Linked DNA regions of Homo sapiens: region 2 is linked to region 1. A link means that fine-mapping ties the variant in region 1 to the expression of a gene that starts in the linked region. Tissue or cell type: whole blood. Region 1 holds a variant in brackets; the other region holds the start of a gene. All regions are shown on one strand. Distances are from middle to middle.

What was found. PIP is the estimated chance that this variant, and not a neighbour inherited with it, causes the effect. A credible set is the group of variants that fine-mapping cannot tell apart.
Region 2: DNTT starts here. The variant in region 1 is the best candidate, but not a certain one, in a credible set for the expression of DNTT in whole blood (TOPMed, PIP 0.80).

What each region holds. Positions count from the first base shown.
Region 1 is chr10:96,234,556-96,238,796 of GRCh38, forward strand. All of the region lies in intron 3 of BLNK (B cell linker), which reads right to left. LOC124902487 (a long non-coding RNA gene) reads right to left here. Exons shown (of 3, transcript XR_007062255.1): 2 at 1-3,816. Among named protein-coding and RNA genes, the nearest start is that of BLNK, 35 kb to the right of the region's middle. RefSeq lists enhancers at 1,684-2,183, 1,853-1,952. The variant A/G (reference allele first, on the strand shown) is at 1,724.
Region 2 is chr10:96,302,540-96,306,780 of GRCh38, forward strand. DNTT (DNA nucleotidylexotransferase) reads left to right here and starts at 1,895. Exons shown (of 11, transcript NM_004088.4): 1 at 1,895-2,161. The coding sequence starts at 1,959.

The sequences.
Region 1 (4,241 bases):
TTTAAAGCTTCATTTCCTCACCCGTAAAGCAAGGATAAGAACAGTGCCTGTATCATATTTTTGTGAGAATCAAATAATAAAATACATCTGAAGCTCTTAGCAAAGCCTGGCACACAGTAATGCTTTAGTAATGTTACCGTCATCTTGAGCATTGCAAAGAATGCCTCAATTAACACTCAAAACACCACTGATTCTAATTTACTCCCACGTCAATCACACACTATGGCTACCACAAAGGCATGGATCCAAGAAAGCCTCTATTGTAGTGAGTAAAATTTGGGGGAGAAGTTCAAGCTTCATGTGGGCCAGGTGGATTGATTTTGTTTGTGTGATTCCATGGTCTCTGCCAGGAAGCTGAGATCCTGGGCGGGCCCTCTTGTCAGTTAAAGCCTTTCCTATGGTGTGGTTTACCTGGTTTGGGGCTTATGCTCCATTTACCATGTCATAATCCCATGCCACACAATAGAGGGACTCCTCCCTTTGCCTGACCCAGGTTTTAAGATTCATGTAGCCCTCCCCAGCCTGTGGGCACAGCACCAGACACAAGGAGATGTGAGAATGGCCACAGCGGCCCACATTTGGGCTTAAGCTCTGGGGTCAGACTGCCTAACTTAGAATCCTTATTCTGCCATTTTCTAGGAGTGAGATCTTAGCTGAATTGCTTCACCTCTGGGCCTCAGCTTCCCCTTTGCTAAAATGGACATTATTAATCGTGCTTAGAAGAGTATCTGACATAGAGTAAAGGGCTCAATGAATGTTAGCTATTACAATGAATTTACAGTCTCTGCAATTCTCAGAACAATCTAAAGGATAGGTATTCTTATCCCCAGGTCAGAAATTGGAGGCTCACTCAAATTACAAAACTGTTCCAAGTTCACACAGTGCTTAGGGAGCAAAGCCAGGATTCCAACCCAGGCCTAAAGGACCTCAGAGTCCAAGGTCTTCTCACCAAGCCACACTTCATAATACAAATAAAGACTAAGGGCCAGAAGAATGACCACATGAGACTGGGAAAACTCAGGGCCATGTAGTTTTCTGAGAAATGTCCCCACACCTGGAATCATTGCCAGGAGCGGGGAAAGTTCAGAGAAAGGTGTGCCCAGTGACAGCCAAAAACTTGCATGAGGCCATGTGCCCGAGGTGGGGCCGAATGGGGCCTTGAAGGATGAGCAGGATTTGGGTGAGAGAATAAGGATGAAGGAGTGTGTCTTCCTCCATCATCTGAGAGAGGGGCTTATGTGTCAGCCCCAGAAGCAGGGCTTAGAGGCAGATGTGTGCAGAATGAATGCGCTGGGCTGGAGAGGGACAGGAGATTCTGCTGAGCGCTCACACAAATCTGATGTGCTGCCGGCCAGTGGGGGCTCCAGCCATAGTGGACACCGCAGGCTCCAGTGACAAGCTGAGATGGGGAGCTGATGAGGTTGGTGTTTAGGAACTCAGGCATGGAAAGACGAAAGCTGATCCAGACCAGGGGGTCTGGGAATGGGAAGGGATGGCTGGAAGGACAGTACAGGACTCTGTGGTGGTGGCTGGGGCAAAGGGAGTATGAATCCAGCCTCTCAGTTCTGAGTCAATAGGAGCACCAGAGCCCCTGGGGCAGATGCTGGTGGCATCACAGCATGTCTGACATTCTGCCTCAGCTGCAGCCCTGATCCTGCTCTGGAGGCTACCCGGCCGCCAGACCCTGCCCATCTCTCCCCCAACAGAGCAGGTGGTGGCATGC[A/G]GGGAGCCAGTGGGAAGACCGCAGCAGGACACAGAAGGAAGGAAAGAGGGAGGGTGGGCCAGTTGTGGTGGTGGGGACAGACACCGAAAAGGAACAGAAAGCAGAACTACAGAGGCTGCAGGGGAGGCGGTGGGTGGCCAGTCCCACCAGTGCCGCCCTAAGAGGAGAAAGGGACATGATTTAATGTGGGGAACTGAGGACAAGACCCAGATTCAGGCTGGCTGAGAGAGGTGTTCTGAGTCTAAATACTTAACATCTTAGGCCAGGCATGGTGGGCTCACACCTGTAATCCCAGCACTTTGGGAGGCCAGGGCAGGAGGATCACTGGAGGCCGGGAATTTGAGAACACCCTGGACAACATAGTGAGACATTGTCTCTACAAAAAAGATTTTAGAAAATTAGCCAGGCATGGTGGCACATGCCTGTGGTCCCAGCTACTCAGGAGGCTGAAGCAGGAGGATCACTTGAGCCCAGGAGGTTGAGGCTGCAGTGAGCCATGATTGTACCCCTGGACCCCAGCCTGGGTGACAGGGCGAGACCCCGTCTCAAAAAAAGAAAAAAGAAATACTTATCATCGTAGAAACTCCCTTTGTCTGTATGTCTACTCATCCCTTCACAGGATCATTAACAGAGGGGTGGGGGTACAGCAATGGGGGACATAGTCCTGGCTCAGCCATCACCTCACTGCATGACCTCAGGAGTCACTTTGCCTCTCTGGTCTCCAGTTATTCCTAAAATGAGAAGCTTGGGTTGGGCAATCCTTCAGGAATTTCTAAGCTTTAAAATACCTTTGAGCCCAAGTGTCATTCCTCTATTCTTAGTTCCCTATGGCAGGACTGATGTTGGATATAGCTCTCCCATGTCAGCGTAAGACCAGTACCTCCAGGGGAATATGGACAGGGAGACAGAAAACCAGGTAAATGCTGGCTCCACTAGGAGCACCAGGCCCATGACAAAAGCAATGTTAAATCTCACTTCTTTAGTGGACAAAGGATTGTTATGCATACCCCATACTTCTGTGTGGGCATTTACCCAAGAATCCCTGTCCAAGTGCCTTCTTTGCTCTGGATTTTTATTTTTTTCCATGTAAGTGAGTTTGCCACCCCTCCACCCTATATTTGCTCTGATCTCCTCCCTGCATGATAGCAGAGCCAGAGGAGTCACACGTGGACCTCCCAGGGATGCCACCCCATCAGAGCCCTGGACATCAGAGCCCAAGAGTGCAAGAGAGGGGCTCTGTTCAGTTCTGACTCCTCAAGGACTTGTGGGGTAACCAATGGGGCATCTGCAGTGATCCCAGCAGACTCTCGGGCACCATGACTGGTCTCTCCCTGACCTCCATCCCCAGCCAGACCTCAGACTTCAAAGATACCGAAGGCTGTTCAACTGTGAAAGCTCAGGAACTGGGAAGCGAGTTCTTGCATTAATGTCAGGAGCTCTAGTGCCTTCAGAATAAGAAAAAAGTTCCCCCAAAAGCATGAACACTTGAGCTTGGGTCAAAGCAAGGAGCTGCAAAATGGGAGTCTGGGATGGGTTTTCCTCTTAGTGGCTGCAGTCACCTTGGACAGGATACTTAATGTCCTTGAGACACATTTTCCTCATCTGCAAAACCGAGATCGTAATTTCTATATAACGGTGCTAATGAGAAGATTAAATGAGATATGTCTGTGAAGAGCTTAGCTTAATGCCCAGAACAGAGTCAATACTCAACAGATTTTGGATATCTTCCCTTCCCACAGCAATGCCAGCTGCTTGGGGCAATGCATTCTGCCCAGTGGGCCAGCAGTTCCTTAGGGGCGATGTTTCCTCCTCAGGGAAAGACTGAACTGGGATTGCTGGGTCTGAACTGAAGGCAGCAGGCTCCACACTGGCCTGACCTGCATCCCTGGAGGAGACCCAGCTCTCCATTCTTTGTGTAATTCAAGCTTTGTCCTTCTGTACTCTAACTAGGGAAGAGGGTATGGTGACTCTTTTACTGACCTCCTGTGGGGCAGTTGCTGGTCCTTTCTATCCTCTGCTCTCTGAAGGTCAGCATCACCAAGGTCAACACACTCTTGGCTTAGAGGGTTTTGGGAAGCCATTTGTTTCCAGAACTGGAAAGAGGACATAAATCCAATGTGTGGGGGGAAAATGGCTGGAGCATTTCAGGAGCCTTTGGTGGATCAAGTGCTCCACAGGGCACGTGATTGGCCTCCCAGGCTCAGGAGGTCTGGTGGGCTCTGGCCTCCACACACTACAGTTTCCAAGATCCTAAAGACTCCCCAGGTTCAGGAGGAGCTCTCAGGGCTGATTTCTGAGGCCCTGGACGTGCAGCTGTGCAGAAACCTCAAGGCTCAGGGGAAGCAGCTGGAAATGCTCCTGGGATGTGAACTGGGGTGGGGGAGAGAACGGCAAGGGAGGATGCTAACTGCAGGTGGTGATGGTGGTTTTGGACCATTTCCGGGGATTGAGTGTAAGAGCAGGGGAAACTGGGCAAGGCCCCAGTCATCTGGCAAAGCAATAAGATGCATTTCCGAGA
Region 2 (4,241 bases), 68 kb after region 1:
CAGCTCTTCAGTAACCAAACACATAATAGTGAGGGTCAAAATAGACTCTCATCTTCCAGTTGATCTCTAGCAAACAGTCATAGCATCCGGGAATTTCAGGGCTGCATTATAGGCCCTTACCAGATGTCTGAATTCCCTTCTGTTACAGCTCAATAAACAGTTATCCAGCATCTGTTTGAATACTTTTCATGACTTGTAACACACAACTGTATAAAGCTGCTCTCTGTATATTTTTAGACAGCTGAGTTACTAAACAGGTCTTACTTGCGGAGAACTGGAATCTATTACTCTACAATTTCCACCTGAAGATTTCTGATTTTGCTTTCTTGAGCAACACAGAGTGCTTTACCCATGCCTTAAGGCAGCTGTCACATGACTCTTCCCCTAATACGGTTGTGAGGTGCTCACGTGTTTTGGAGATAGCAAAAGTCTCAAATAATATGGCACAGACGGCCAGCCATGGTGGCTCACACCTGTAATCCCAGCACTCTGAGAGGCCGAGGTGGGCCGATCACCTGAGGTCAGGAGTTCAAGACCAGCCTGACCAACATGGTGAAACCCCATCTCTACTAAAAATACAAAAATTAGCCAGGCGTGGTGGCGTGCGCCTGTAATCCCAGCTATTCAGGAGGCTGAGGTAGCAGGATCGCTTGAACCCAGGAGGTGGAGGTTGCAGTGAGCTGAGATTGTGTCACTGCACTCTAGCCTGGGCAATAAGAGCGAAACTCCATCTCCAAAAAAAAAAAAAAGGACAAAGGGTGAGCAGAGCTCAGATTGGTTATTGGAGAAGACAATACAGAGGAAGGCTCCTTGGTGGTTAAGAGTAGTCTTTTAAAATCAGACAGATCTGAGTCCAAATCCTAGCTCAATCATTTCTCAGTTGTGAAAATTCAGTAGCTCTGTGACCTTGGGCAAATTGTTTAGCCAAATGAGAAAGGTAGGACCACCTGACAGTGGTATTGTGAGGATCCTGTCAGCTAAGGCTGGTAGGTGCTTGCCTTGGCCGTGTAGTAGCTGCTCAGGAAATGAGATCTATAGAGTGTATTGGTGAAAGACAAATTTAATTTTGCACATAAAGTTATGAAAATGTCTCCTTATGGCAGTGGTTATCATCTAAAAGTCATACCATCCCACTGAAGAAGACCTATTTTAGGGTTTATAACAGACTACTCTCTGGACAACCTTAATCCACTTAAAAAACTAATATATGCATACAGCATTTGGAATCCAAAGAACTGAATTCAAGATATGGCTTGGCCCCTTATTCTGTGATCTTGAATAACTGAGCCTTGGTTCTCTTGCTTATAAAATGTACCTATGTAAGTGAACAGGTGGTAATACCCACCATGAAATACTATGGAGCAGTTAGAAGCAACAGAGCAATTAGAATACGGATCTGGAAAACATAGTTCCAAGTGAAATAAAAAGGTGATTGGCAAAATGAGAAATGTAACAATGCCATTTATGTAAAGTCAAAACAACCACAAGCAGAATATAACACCCATGCAAATAACAGACATCCAGTACAGTGTAATGATTGTCTACAAAAGGAGGAGAATGCAAGTGAGTTGGGAGGTTTAAAGGGGATCAATAAATAAAGACCACAGAAGGGCCTCAGTACATTTAGAAATAAATAACATGCAAACAATGATGCTTCCCTACCTTCCTCACGAGGTTACTCTGAGGAGCTAATGAGATTGTGCGTATGAAAACAAAAGTTAATTGACTGTCTTCATTATGATCTCCATATTGGACAAATGAACTGAACAGAGATAAAAATTCCCCATCACACTTTGGCAGGAAGCTGTTGCCAGGGCAGCACCTGTGAAGCCCTGGCCTGGCTTCAGAGTCTGCTGGTGAGATGACATCAAAACCCTTCGTGTAGGAGGGTGGCAGTCTCCCTCCCTTCTGGAGACACCACCAGATGGGCCAGCCAGAGGCAGCAGCAGCCTCTTCCCATGGATCCACCACGAGCGTCCCACTTGAGCCCTCGGAAGAAGAGACCCCGGCAGACGGGTGCCTTGATGGCCTCCTCTCCTCAAGACATCAAATTTCAAGATTTGGTCGTCTTCATTTTGGAGAAGAAAATGGGAACCACCCGCAGAGCGTTCCTCATGGAGCTGGCCCGCAGGAAAGGGTTCAGGGTTGAAAATGAGCTCAGGTAGGACAGCATCGATCTTGCTTTGTAAATAAGCAGAGGCTTTGTGAACAGCTTCTTGGGAACCCAAGGAACCTGTGTTTTCTTCCACATGTGGAAGAGGTGATCTTCCCACTGGGAGAACAGCAGATTTGAAATCAAAGAACAACTAGTTAAGGAAAACGAGATAAGTGGGGACTGAATACAATTATATTGAAACTAGTTGACACCAAAAGATGAGATAAATTTTTTGTTTTTTGCTTTTCACTCCTATGAGATGTGTTATTTAGGGATGATAAGCAGAACACTAATTGGAAAATTTAATGCTGAACCACTCAATTCTATTCTTGACCAATTTGAACAAAGTATCACTGGGTTCAACAAAAAAGTTTTGGCTACTTTGATGCAGAAAGATGATTTGGTTGCTTGGTTCTTACCTATACATCTGGGCGTGCTAAGGCAGCTAGCATCTGTGGTGGGCGAGGATGACTAGCCAGCTTACCACAGGCACCCAGATGTGGCCTTGACCACATTTTTCCAAAGAGTGGTCCTAGTGGGGTTCTTAGAAAGAGAGATGCTAGGTAAAGATGTATTCACTGTTAAGACAGCTCTGTCCAGGGATGACAGACATCACACTGAGTGAGATGTAATCAGAGCCCAGGCAAGGAGGCGATAGAAGCATTTGGACCACCTAGATTGGTTCACTCACTAATCCACTCACCTTGAACAGCAATTATTCTTGTTGTTTTTCTAACTTCTGTGTAAGCTCTTCACTGATCTCAAATAGATGAAGAGAAAACAAGCAAAATCCAGAAACAAATGGTATTAGAACCTTGACATAAGTGATGGTTCTGGATTAAACTGTTAAGGGGCTTGCAATGAAGGAGTAATGATTTATGCAGTTGACCGCTTTGACTGTGCAAGAAATAAATTGACCACAAATTTTCAGGCAAAACTATAAAAATTTTATGTGAAAGGACATTTTGATTGTATAAATAGTCTTTGATATTTGAAAATAAAACTGACAAGCATGTCATGCAGAAGAAATGTCAGCTTCCAAGTGTTGAGGAGACATATTTCAAAAGTCAATTTTCAGATATGTTAATGTTCGCAACACCCTGATTCATATGACATTGACTTTTCATTCATTTTTTGCTAAAATGCCCCATTCAGAAATTCCTGAATTTCCTATGGCCCTTCTTCCACCTGATTTCTCTTTGCAAGGTCTCCTTTTCTCTCTTGCTGCCTCTCTGTAACCTCCTACAGCCACTCTGAATCTCATTTTCTAACATCCTTTCCAAGAAAATCCTAGATTTCATCTAACTGTTAAGCCTGCCTGATATTACAGACTTACATAGAAGGCTAGAGTTGGAGAAGACAGGAAGATTATATAGGTAAAGAAGCCAAAAAAATAGATTTTTTTTTTTTTTTTTTTGAGACAGAGTCTTGCTCTGTTGCCCGGGTTGGAGTGCAGTGGCACAATCTCGGCTCACTGCAACCTCCGCCTCCCAGGTGCAAGTGATTCTCCTGCCTCAGCCTCCCAAGTAGCTGGGACTACGGACACGCGCCACCACAATCAGCTAATTTTTGTGTTTTTAGTAGAGACGGGGTTTCACTATGTTGACCAGGATGGTCTCTATCTCCTGACTTTGTAATCCGCCTGCCTTGGCCTCCCAAAGTGCTGGGATTACAGGCATGAGCCACCACGTCTGGCCAAAAATAGATTTTTTGGAAAAGAAATTAAAAGCCTTAGCAAATATGGAACTGCTTTTCATGGTAAAGAAATTTGACAAGGGTTAGGCAGGAAGGAAAGAACCAGAAGCACCACTTACTGGAAAGCTCTCCATTGAAACGTCCAAGCTTCCAGCAAGGACCCGCTGATTTATTATAGACACAGCAATGAATACATACAAGGCGGCTGAGGCAGGCACTCAGGGAGATGATGGGAGGTAAGTTTCTTCTGTTGGCAGGACAGCTGAAGAGGCAGCTACATGCCCCAGATGCCTGCTGCCAGGGACCAAGCCCAGCTGCTCAGGCGGCGGAGGAAGCTCACTGGTGCATGGTGAGCAAACTGCCGCTGTGCATGTGATGATGGCAAAGTTCC